Linked DNA regions of Homo sapiens: all the other regions are linked to region 2. The links come from fine-mapping of genetic effects on gene expression. A gene starts in region 2. Each other region holds a variant in brackets. All regions are shown on one strand. Distances are from middle to middle. Region 1 overlaps PIGG (phosphatidylinositol glycan anchor biosynthesis class G (EMM blood group)). Region 2 holds the start of PIGG (phosphatidylinositol glycan anchor biosynthesis class G (EMM blood group)). Region 3 overlaps PIGG (phosphatidylinositol glycan anchor biosynthesis class G (EMM blood group)).

Evidence for each region.
Region 1: its variant is fine-mapped to the expression of PIGG in blood mononuclear cells (TOPMed, PIP above 0.99).
Region 3: its variant is fine-mapped to the expression of PIGG in adrenal gland (GTEx, PIP 0.91).

The regions. Positions count from the first base shown.
Region 1 is chr4:529,816-533,927 of GRCh38, reverse strand. PIGG (phosphatidylinositol glycan anchor biosynthesis class G (EMM blood group)) reads right to left here. Exons shown (of 13, transcript NM_001127178.3): 11 at 3,183-3,492; 12 at 1-110. Among named protein-coding and RNA genes, the nearest start is that of PIGG, 33 kb to the right of the region's middle. The variant C/T (reference allele first, on the strand shown) is at 2,106.
Region 2 is chr4:497,347-501,458 of GRCh38, reverse strand. It overlaps PIGG (phosphatidylinositol glycan anchor biosynthesis class G (EMM blood group)), which reads right to left and starts at 2,249. Exons shown (of 13, transcript NM_001127178.3): 1 at 1,970-2,249; 2 at 858-1,063. The coding sequence starts at 2,123. It overlaps ZNF721 (zinc finger protein 721), which reads left to right and starts at 2,303. Exons shown (of 3, transcript NM_133474.4): 1 at 2,303-2,403. RefSeq lists enhancers at 1,288-2,151, 2,109-2,588, 2,152-3,017.
Region 3 is chr4:535,859-539,970 of GRCh38, reverse strand. PIGG (phosphatidylinositol glycan anchor biosynthesis class G (EMM blood group)) reads right to left here. Exons shown (of 13, transcript NM_001127178.3): 13 at 1-818. The coding sequence ends at 602. Among named protein-coding and RNA genes, the nearest start is that of TMEM271, 38 kb to the left of the region's middle. The variant A/G (reference allele first, on the strand shown) is at 1,950.

The DNA.
Region 1 (4,112 bases), 32 kb before region 2:
CCTGCGTACGTCCCAAACGCTGTCAGGAGCACGGCTGGGATTTCCACGTAGGTGTCTAAGCCCACGAAGCCTGCGGAGATGTCCACGGTGGCAATGTTGTTGGAGTTGCCCTGGAATACAGGAGAAGAGCTGACAAAGGCCTCACAACACGTGGCATCAACAGCCACGATGTTAGCGTGAGCCACGATGTTAGCGTGAACTGTGTAGGCAGCCCAGATAACCACGCCGGCACGGACACACGTGTGGTCAGAGGTGGCTGCCCAGCCGTTCCTTCAGACTGCCGAGCTGGCCTTGCCTAGGTGGCACCCCCTCCCCCTGCCTGCAGTGCCCAGGCTGCGGAAGGGCACGTGAGCGGACCGTGCAGAAGCTGGGGCCCCCTCTGAAGAGGGACGCACACACAGACCGGCTGGCTGACTGTGCCACATCTAAGACCCTTGTCCAGACCCATCGACTTAAGACAAGCACATGAAGCTCCCCTCAAGGACCCCCATCCGAGGGGCGCATAGGGCCCTGAGAGGCCAGCTGCTGGGCCCAGCCAAGCGGGGAGCTGGGCTGAAGACTAGAACGGGCACCCAGCCAGGTCCCATCTACGGTGAGGTGCTGCCAGTGGGTTATATGGTGGAGGGCAGGCCAGCCACTGGGGGAGCACAGCCCCTGGTGCAAATTGGTAACTCACATCTGGCTTACGTATCAGACCATGAGGACTCACTTGGTCTGGTCAAACTTCATCTGTCAAGGTTCTGGCCAGTCCCGGCCCAGCCCTGGTAGGTAACTCCCTGCAGGATGCAAGCGCTGATGCCACACAGCTTACCCTGCTCCTAGTGATTCTGGATCCCAAAAAGGGGTCTTCTGAGAGACCCTGCCTCTCTGCGCAGGCCCCGCCTCTCCACTCCAAGACCACACCTTTCCACTCCTAGGCCCTACCTCTCCATTCCTAGGCCCCTCCTCTCTGCTCCCAGGCCCCGCCTCTCCACTCCAAGACCACACCCTTCCACTCCTAGGCCCCACCTCTCCATTCCTAGGCCCCTCCTCTCTGCTCCCAGGCCCCGCCTCCCCACGCTCCATCTTTACTGACTCTGATGTCTGTCACTTGCCTGTCATGCTGACCTTTCCTCAGAAACTCATGACATCTACAGTCCGACAGCACATGTCTCTATCAAGCTCAACGAAGATCCCTCTCCAGAACCAGAACTGTTCATGTCCACAAAACACTGGCTGGGTGCTCACCAGCTTGGCTCCTTCCTCCCTTTCCATGCAGAGAGCTGTGGGCCCAGGGGGTCCCCAAGTCATGTTGATGCTGCTTCCCCATTATCTCACAGATGTGCATTGACTCCTATCCCTGTTGTCTTAGGCCCCAGCCCTTTGACTTGGCTTGCCCTGAGACCCACTGGACTCGCAGCTACTGCCTCTCTTGGACGGTGCCACCCCAGTCATGTGTCTCCTCCACTTGGAAGCTCTTCTGCAGGGAGACTGAGGAGAGAGCAAACAGGCAGAAGCAGTAGGAGACCCTGGAGGGTGGCAGGGGGACAGAGTCCCAGATGCCACGATGGGAGCAGGGGAGGAGGACACCTAGGAGGTCACTGTGGCTCTGAGCAGGCTCAGCCAAGCACAGAGACTGCCAGCCATGCTGACATGTCTGCAGCTGCACAGCAGCTTTACCTGCATGACTTCATCTAACCCAACAGTCCTGATGTGCTTCGTGATTATCCTCATCAAACAGGGAGGAAACGGAGGCAGAGAGACCCAGGGACTGGGCAAATGTGGAGGGCCAGCAGATGAGCAAGGGCAGTCATGTTCCTGATCCCTGATCTGTTAAGGAACTGCCCAGTCGAGGGCAGGAAGTAGGGATGGGCAGCAAAGCCACAGGTTCCTCTCAGAGGAGATCTAACACTGAGGGGCAGCGGACTCAGCCTCAAAACAGGGGCCACGGGGAGGTGGGGAGACCAGGGAGGGCTGGGTCCTGGGGAGGCCGGGAGACCACTATCCCTGGTTTACAGATAAGGAAACGAAGGTGTGGCAAGAGCCTGCCGGAGGCCACCTGGCTTGAACGTGCTGGATACCAGCATCCAGGCCTGCAGTTCTGCTGGGGACACCCTTGTGCCTTG[C/T]GTGGACATGGCAGGGAGAGCTGCAGCTGTGTACGAGGAGGACAGGGGCCTGAGCGGATCAGAAGGGTCGGGGAAGCACCAGGACGGGGCTAAGAAGCTGGCCATTGGCCACCTACTCATTGTACCTGAAGACACAGACTTCTGTAACTTCACGCCTACCACCTTTGGGCTTCAGGATCAGGGGGACAGACATAAAGACAGAAAATCCTGCAACTGTGGGCTGTTCCATGGGAAAGGCTGGGAGCACCAGGAAAGGAGAAGAGGATGGAAGAGAGGCCCTGTAGGGACACAAAGAACTGCACATGCCTCCTGGGTACGAGACAGCGGACAGGCAGACACCGGTGCACACCAAGAAAATACAGACCTCACGGTAGAGACCAAAATGCAACCACGACGTTCAGCTGCTGCAAAGCGACTCAGCCTGGGAGTCGGCACTGGAAGGGAACCAGCAGGGCTGTGCCTGCTCTCCTGAGGTTGCCGGGAGGCTGGATGAGGCTGGATCCCTCTGAGGCCCCATCTGGCCTGCTCTCCTGAGGTTGCCGGGAGGCTGGATGAGGCTGGATCCCTCTGAGGCCCCGTCTGCCTGTCCCTCTATGTCTCTTCAAACTGAGGTGGTTTGGGCTTGTCTGGGATGGGTCTTTAAACACCGGACAGAAGCCCTGACGACCCACCAGGCTTCAGGGAGCTAATAATCATGGGGGCACCAATGGTCCCCAGTGTGGACAGCCCCGACACCAGGGGCAAAGGGCATGAACGAGAACAATTATTACATTCATCAGTGAAGCAAGTGAACAACGTGATGTCTGTGCTTCCTGAACTGCTTGTAATAAATAAACCCAGGCCTGGCCCAGCAAAGCAGCAGTCTGCTGTCTTAAGCACCCACACATCCACACCTGGGACGCGTGTCTTAAACAACCGGCTGTACTTTGTCTTATAAAATACACGAGAGTTCAGCGTAATTCACCATGCCACACTGACAGTCACTTTCCAACTTATGGGAACATTTTCTCAAAGAAAAATTTAAAATAAATATGTAAAACATGAAGTCTACTACCCATGATAATAATGAAAACCTACCTGAAAATAGAAGAATGCTTGACCAAACCAATAATGCATCACAGTAATCTCAGCTGCATCGTGTCTCAGGGGCTTCCAGATGAATTTAGTCATTAGAGTCTGAATCAAGAGGCTAAATGCTAAGACCGGAAGATTATGTGGTCTAAAGAGCAAGGCTGCCAGAAGAACTAATCCACTATATATCTCCCATAAACCTACAGTCTTGAGTTTGAAGTCTGCAGCAATGACTTGAGATTTAAGTAAGTCTTTGGTGCCCGTGAACAGAATGCCAAGGACAAAGACATAAACAAAACGAGCTTCAATAATACCCCTAAAAAAGAGCAAAACAAGTTAGATTCATTAGCACCAGTGAGAAAAATTCAAAAACATTTTCCCATGAAAAACACACCTATCTACCCAGGGAACCAGTAAATGTCCAGCACTGCTGACTAAAGGAGCCGCGGCACCCTCCCTACCCCCCAGGTCCTGTCATGGCAGTGGGCATGTCTCCTCCGCACAGCAGCCCTGAGGAGCCGCCGCCACAGGCCCACAGGTGTGTCCTCGTGCAGACTCTTCCGCTGGGGCTGGCTTCGGGGAGATCTTGCTCATTTGGCTCATCTGGTGGCACGACCCAAGCGGTGCCCTCGTGGCCCGCCTGCTTTGCAGTTAATTAAAAAAAACCCAACGCACTAGTATAAGAGTCAACTCTAAGAAACTGCTGTAAGTTCATAAATGTTCATTGCACAACTGAGCAGATTTAAAGAAGGATTTGCACATTTACAGGTACACATACATGCAGTTATAGGTAAATAAGCACCTGCACATTCACAGGCACACACGCGTGCAGTGGTGCAGTCATCCAACCCGCGGGCTCTGAGAAAAGGCAGAGCTCTGCTCAGTCCGAGCCCTGCTGCTCTGCTCACTAGCTCTCCTACTCGGGCGTGTCAATCA
Region 2 (4,112 bases):
CTCCTTTCTGTCCCCACCTTTATTCATCCTTCCAGTCTCAGTTTAAATGCAATTTCCTCAGCCAGGCTTTCTCACCCACTAATCATCACATCCTGTTCTTTCTCATCATGCATTAACCACACTTTACAACTGCATGTTTTCATATGCTCCTTTGTTGAGTGGCTGTATATCTAAAGACTAAAAGCTACATGAAGGCAGAGATACTATTTTTTCCCCAATTGCATACCCATTGAAGTATCACCACATAGTCGTTGCTCAAAAGTTTTGAGCCAATCAATAAAGGCTTACTTTTTTCTTTACCCACGGTTCTTGGGAAATGCACTATGTACTTCAAAGCTGCTGTCAGTAGGCTGGACACCTGAAGGATATGGTGGAAACAGTGGTAATTGTTGAGGCCGGAACATACTGATTTGATCATTATGTATACTGGTGGATAATTTTGGAGAAGTCACATTTAACTTATCTGAGTTTGCTTTCCTATCTATAAAGTCTAGAGACTGAACTAGATTAACTCTAAAGGCTCCTTCTAAGATTGTAAATGACCCAGTGACGATTAAAGAAGAAAGCAGGTCACCAAGAATGGCATATCTTGGGGTAGGTTAGCCTGGATGATCTTGCTCTAAATCTTTTATATTTGCCATGAAGCATGAGCTTTGGCTACTTGACATGGGGCACAAATGATGGGTCTCAGTTCCATCCCGTGTGAGGCTCCTTCAACATTCTATTGCCCCAGCCAACTGACAGCACAAAATTTCCACTTTCTTAAAATTGCAACTCCAAGCGAAAGACTACAGAGACCCCCTCTAAATCTTCAAAACAGCCAAACCATGATTCATAAAACATTAAGGCAAACTTACCTTGATTCGAGGCATAGTAACTGTAGGTGGCTTTGCTTCAGCCACAAAACTGTGAGATGCTCCTTTTTCCACAAGGTAAGTTGTGTAGGGCATAAATTTCACACCCTTTGACCCAAACACAAAATCATCTCTCAAGGCATCTATCAGAACAATAACAACTTTACTGAAGAGAGGTGGTGGCAGCGTGGTCCAGTTAGAACTGGCTCCTAAGTGTTTGAAAGAAAAAAAAGGAAATTGAACTCTAAACTTTCCTTAGCATCAAGCACCTTCACAATCTAGCTTCTACCTACTTCTCCAGCACATACCCTGCGATATCTACATAACCCAACCCAAAAGGAGGCGACTTGTACTTGGTAGGTAGTGCTGGGGGGAAAGGACGGGGGTTAACAGGAGTAATCTTAGGGACCCACAGTAGCAAGCAGTGAATTATCCTCAGTATGGTGAAGAGTACTGGGGTAGGAGAATCCCTACGTAAGGGTCCTGGAATGGGACATTTAGGGAGCTTGACCTAAAACGCAGAGCTGCAGCTACGGGATGGCTGGGCGTTTACATACTGCGTTTACATGGTCAGCGGCTGGCGATGTGTGCAAGTGGTCCAGAACCAGGGCGCCTTTACTTGCTGTATATGGCTGGGTAGGTGAAGCCTAGGAAGAGGCCTAACGCAGAGAGGCCTTAGCCCCTAGGCAGGGAAAACATCTTGGAGGAATATAAGAGACCAAAACGCGAGGGGATCGGCAGGGGTCTTATCTGTTGTGTGCTAGGGGGCAAAAAGGGCGCCTATAACGGGGAGTGACCCAAAGGCTGCTCAGGAAAGGGGCGGGAGCTCTGGACGAGTAGAAGTGGAGAGGCTGGATCCCAGGTATGGACACAGCTTACTTTGTGGTGATCAGGAAGGAAGGTCGAAGTGGGGCCAGTAGAGGTGGTTGCCACAAAGTTGTAAGAATACAGAAAAGAGACGCTGGAGCGGTTAAAAAAAATTTCTGAGGTGGGGACCATAATGGAAGAGACCACCGGGGAGCGCCGAGAAGAAATCCGAGCAGCGAGGCTCAGAAAAAAGGTCTTCTAGGGGATGTGGGGTCAGGGGAGCGGAGACGCCGGGGAGGGGTCCGTACCAGCCGAGGGTTCGGGCGCTGGGGGCTCCGCTCCGTGTTCCGCTCTGGCAGAGGAACGAACGGGAGCCGGGAAGAATCCCCGAAGGAAGACCGCGATCCCTAGCACCTCGATCGCTACGCAACAGGTAGCGAAAGTCCCGGAGCCCAGCCGCATCGTGGACACGCTAGGCTGGATGCGGAACCGACCCCACCTGGAGCCTCGCCCTGCTGCAGCCGCGCTTCCGGCTCCAGGTAGCCGCCTCTAAGCAATAACGCCAGGCCTTATCGTCGCAGCGACAGTGGCGTCACGTCCGCCGGCGCGCCACAGCAGCGCGTCACTTCCGCCAGCCCGCCACAGCGGGGCGTCACCTCGGACATACGAACAGCGGGCGGTGTTCCCGGCTCCGTGGGGCCGTCTTCCCGGCGAGTCCGCGACGGTCGCCGCCCACGGCGAGGTACGAGGTTTTAAAAAGTTTTTAATTTGGAAGGCAGGGTGCAGTGGCTCACGCCTTTAATCCCAGTACTTTGGGAGGCCGAGGCGGGCGGATCACGAGGTCAGGAGATCGAGACTATCCTGGCCAACATGGTGAAACCCCGTCTCAACTAAAAATACAAAAAATTAGCGGGGCGTGATGGCGGGTGCCTGTCGTCCCAGCTACTCGGGAGGCCGAGGCAGGAGAATCGCTTGAACCTGGGAGGCGGAGGTTGCAGTGAGCCGAGATCGCGCCACTGCACTTCTGCCTGGCAACAGAGCGAGACTGCGTCTCAAAAAAAAAAAAAAAAAGAAAATTCAACCCAATACCTCAGACAACTGGTAAATATCTTAATGATTAACTTCGTTTTAAAGATGCCACATGAGTGAGATCATGAGGTATTTGTCTTTCTGTGTCTTATTTTGCTTACATGATATCCTCAGGTTTATCCGTGTTGTGGCAAATGATAGGGTTTCATTCTTTTATTAGAGCTGAATAGTACTCCATTGTGTATATATACCACATTTTCTTTTTTCTGAAAGGAAAATCTTGGGGCCCCAAAATTACTAAACTAAGGGAAAAGACAAGCTCGGAACTGCTCAGGACAAACCTGCCTCCCATTCTATTCAAAGTCATTCCTCTGCTCACTGAGATAAATGCATATTGATAGCCTCCTTTGGAGAGGCTTATCAGAAACCCAGAAACTGCAACCATTTGTCTGTCACCTACCTGTGACCTGGAAGCCCCCTCCCTGTTCCAAGTTGCCCCCGCCTTTCTGGACAGAACCAATGTCCTTCTTTTTTTTTTTTTTTTTTTTTTTTTCTTTTTCTTTTCAGATGAAATCTCACTCTGTCGCCCAGGCTGGAATGCAGTGGCGTGATCTCAGATCACTGCAACCTCTGCCTCCCGGGTTCAAGCAATTCTCCTGCCTCAGCCTCCTGAGTAGCTGGGATTACAGGTGCGTGCCACCACGCACGGCTAATTTTTGTATTTTTAGTTGAGACGGGGTTTCACCATGTTGGTCAGGCTGTTCTTGAACTCCTGACCTCGTGATCCGCCCGCCTCGGCCTCCCAGAGTGCTGGGATTTACAGGCATGAGCCACCGCGCCCGGCCTGTTTTTTTTTTGTTGGTTTGTTTTTGAGACGGAGTCTCGCTCTGTCGCCCAGCCTGGAGTGCAGTGGCACCATCTCCGCTCACTGCAAGCTCCGCCTCCCGGGTTCACGCCATTTTCCTACCGCAGCCTCCCGTGTAGCTGGGACTACAGGCGCCCGCCGCCACGCCCGTCAAATTTTTTTTTTTTTTTTGTATTTTTTAGTAGTGACGGGTTTCACCATGTTAGCCAGGATGGTCTCAATCTCCTGACCTCGTGATCCGCCCGCCTCTGTCTCCCAAAGAGCTGGGATTACAGGCGTGAGACACCGCGCCCTGTCCGGCCTGTTATTATACATATGATTGATATCTCGTGACTCCCTAAAATGAATACAACCAAGCTGTGCCCCGACCACCTTGGACCCACGTCGTCAGGATCTCCGGAGGCTGTGTCATGGGCGTCCTTAACTTTGGGAAATAAGCCTCCTGAAATGATTAAGACTTGTCATTTTTCTCGATTGACATTGATAAGCACTGAGAGATCCTCAGTGAAGGTAACCCGGCCTGCAGCAGTTCGCCTATTGATCCTCGGTATTGGCTT
Region 3 (4,112 bases), 39 kb before region 2:
CTGATCTCAAACACCTGGGCTCAAGTGATACCCCCACTCTGGCCTCCCAAAGTGCTGGGTCTCACTGAATTTTTTTGTTTTGGAAAATATAGTTACTTTTCCTTCAAGTGTTTCATTAATATGCAATAGATTCCTTATAAATGAATACTTTTTTATCTTAGTTTTCATCTCAAATGCCATAAACACTGATACATGTAACCCTCATAAACCAAAGCGCCTTGGGGCCCTCAGTGGTTTGTAGGATTCTAAGAGCTCTGTGCTCCCTAAGGTAATCTGGGTGCCTCCTCCCACAGAGCTCCTGGACTCTAACAAAGTCCAGAACCTTTTCATTCATTGATTTAAACACACATATTTGGGTCACACCATAGCTTATTCAGAGGAAATTAAAAGTTCAGAAGCTTCTAGAGTGATTGTCAATGGGGGAAAATATGATACAAACTGTATATTAAAGTGATCTTTTATTAAACTATTTACTGCTTAGTCTAAATTCAGGTAGAGCAGTCAAAGAAAGTTATCCATCAACTTTGTTGAATTCATATCTTTCATTTTAGAATAACAGCAGACTTTAAGCATGTATTATTTTTCCAGTGTTCAGCTTAGTCTAAGACTGTGTGAGTCTGGTTTGATCCATTGCCGTGAAGAATACACAGACAGCAGCTGTAATGAGCAGGTGCATTCCCTCGTAGAGAAGTTTTGGAGAAAATACACTCCATATAAATAAATGATAACGCAGAGATGTCACCAAAACGATGTACGTGAAAACTGGAATAGAACAAATCAGTGCGTAGCAGAAGCAAGCATGACTCAGTGCTGAACCACTGTTAATAAGAAAGAAAATGTGTATTAGCACATGCCACTTACATATCACACATGTAACAACACTTTTATTTTCAAAAAGACTCCAGTAGCTCTTGCCCTTGGAGTAGAGGGCACCGCGTTCCTTCTTCTGCACACACATCCAGTCACTATGGTGCTGGGACAGGTGCCTCTCCAGATGCGCTGGAGACGGGAAAACCCAACCTGCCCCCTTGGAGGCTGTGTTCTAGTGAAGGAGGCAGGAGAAACCAGATATGTAACATGTCAGGAAGAGACAAATTCATGAAGAAAAATGAAGCAAACAGAAGGATGGGTGAGGGCCACCATGTCCCCCCCCACACACACCTTGAGCTCTCCAGAAATGCTTCTGAAACTTGACTGTATGTAAAAATCACCTACAGTATGTGCTGGAAGTGCCACTCTGGAGCCCCCCCTACAGAAATCTGGATGTGGTTGGTCTGGGGTGGGCAGAGGTCTGAGTCTCCAGAAGGCACGGAGGTGCCCGAGGGGACATGAGCTGCAGCCCCAACTGCTCAGCCACTGTCTGCCACCGTCATCTGTAAAACAGCTCTGAAAAACGCACCCCCCAGACTTTGCAGTTATTTAAAAATTATATATGCATGTGCTACTATATCACATGCATTATAAAATACAAACGATGAATAGAAAATCACAAAAGGGTGAGATACAAATAAACATAAATACAAGTTCTGAGCTTTTCTCCCTGCTGTGGTGTGGAGGACTGTCTGGTCTGGGGACACTGGCCCAGCGGGGTTTGCTGAGCAAATTCTCGGAATAAGAGCCACCCCTCGAAGTATGTTAATGTACCCCCTAGTTTTGAAACCACCAACACACTACATAAATCTCTTCCTCAAAGCAACTTCCCTGAGTCTGTGATTATTGAAAAATGATAAATTACATTATTTGGGCACTTTCCATGCCTCATCCATGACCTCTGATCAAGTTCTGTTAGAAAGGGCCCGGAGGCAGCCCCCAGATCCTCAGTCCTGTCGGCACGTGTGTGTGTCTGGGTGTGTGGGTCCCGCTGCATGTCCTGTAAAGGGCCCCTCGGTCCTGTCAGCACGTGTGTGTGGGTGTGTGGGTCCCGCTGCATGTCCTGTAAAGGGCTCCTC[A/G]GTCCTGTCGGCACGTATGTGTGTCTGGGCCCCACATGCATGTCCTGTAAAGGGCTCCTCAGTCCTGTCAGCCCAGCAGCTCCACCAGGTATTACTTGAGGGTGTCCTGTAAGTGGCTCCTGCTTCAGTGCTCACTGCTCAGGAAAGGGTGTCAACAGCCACGAAGGGCCAAGGACGGGGCTGTCTCTGGCCCCTCCACAGCCTCACCTCAGCCCCCCACCGGCTCCCCATCTCAGGCCTTGGAGGGGCCCATCCTCCTCTTGGCTTCTCCAAACACTCCTTCACCTCAGCCCGCCATGTGCTCCAGTAAAATACTCAGACCCTGGGATCTCCCGGTGGGTGGCCGGTGCCTCTGGTCCTTTCACTGCTTTCCTTGCCAGGCCCTGGCTCCTTAGGCGGGTCCCCCAAACCCGTACCGCTGGTCACCACTTGGTATCCAGCCCCACAGGCCGGGGACCCCACAGGGAGGTGGACCCCAAGGTATCCTCAATACACCTCCTGGTGACAGCAACACCCAGGAAAAGGTGAACATACTGGGCAGGAAGATTCGTGGCTAAGTGGGCCGTGGCCCCATCCTACCCAGACAGCGCATGGGGAAGCTGTGGCTTAGACATGGCACCACCTTGACTTCAGTTTAACACTTTATAGCGTTACCCACCTAGAAGATGGCGGCTTGCTGTTCCCACCACTTTAGCAAAGAGCCATTTGCGCTGCAGGGGAGCAGGCAGCCCGGGGTGCCAGCCCCTGGAACAGAGGGTCGCCAACCACTCAAGGCCACGTTTTTGACCTTTTGGAAACATATTTTCTCTGTCTACAATTTAGACCTGGTTATAGTTTTCCTACTCTACTGAAACAAAATAGAAACCATGAGTAAAACTTGATGCTTTAAACTTTTAAAAGGGAAGAAGAAAACCCTATAAAATGAAGGAGAAATGCTTCTTGACTAGGAAAAATATCATGATACTCTCCAGTTGATCAAAATGCTTTCACCTCACTTAATATTTGTCTTTTTCCCTCCCAAACACAAACGTGCCTGGCTGTGTAAGAGATGAAAAGTGCCTGGTCCATCAAACCGCAATCTGCAAGCACCAGGGCAGCTGCAAGGCCGAAGACCAAACCTACAGAGAGAGGAGCCGGGCAAGTACTTCCAGCCCTCCGTCTCCAGCTGGCCACTGGGAGGTGTGCCGTCCACCCAACAGGTGCTTGATCACGCCGCGCACAGCTGTAGCACATCCGTTCTCCAGGGCAGAGGCAGATGCACCTCCACGCGCTCACGCCCGCTTGTCCTGACACCTGACCACACGACGTGCTGACAGCCCACCCCAGACGGCCGAGGACGGCGTCTCCTGTTTCTGTAAGGCCAGTGTGAGCACGCGGCTGGCCTCAAAACCAAGTCAGAGAAAGACGTCCCAGGGCAGCTGCTGAGACAGGCGGACGCCGAGCAGGGGTCTCGTGGCAGATGTTTGTTTTTATGCAGAATCGAAGTCTGGAAGGACGTCTCCACACAGCGCCGCCACAGTGGGTGTCTCCCAAGCTGGTCTGTTGGTGGCTTCCGCCCGCAGAGCCTCAGCTTTCTGCTGTGATGACAAGCTCAGCGGTGACTGTAAATTACGGGGGTCTGTCCACAGACTGCCCCAAAGTGGGCGTGTCAAGCGTCCACAGGCACCTGAAGAAAAGGCAGGTGGATCTCAGGCATTCCTGTCCCCGGGAAGCTTGCAGTCTGGCCAGGGAGCGATTCTCCCCTTGGAAAGGCTCCATGTCCGCTGTGGGAAGGCACGCGCCTATCACTGCTGAAGCAAGGCCAATGCTCCCCCGACCCCTTACGGAAACCTGTGAGCGACTGAGGGGTCCAGCCCGGGCCCGCCGAGTCTGCGGGGCACGAACACTTCCACCATGGTGGACGGTTCCTCTGGCTCCGAAGCACTCATGCTGTGAGAGCCTCAACACAGGACGTGAGCGGCGAGGGGCTCCTTTCAGGGTGGGAAAAGCTCAAAGGCAGGCACGGGTGTGCGTGCCTGGGTGCGTGGGCCCTGCCCGCATGTCCTGTAAAGGGCTCCTCAGTCCTGTCAGCCCGAGGACACCTCTGCGGAATGTCGACAGGGGGCTGGGCATCTGGGTCTGGAGGCAAGGCCAAGGGTCCCTGTGGCCTGGGTCTCAGGAGCT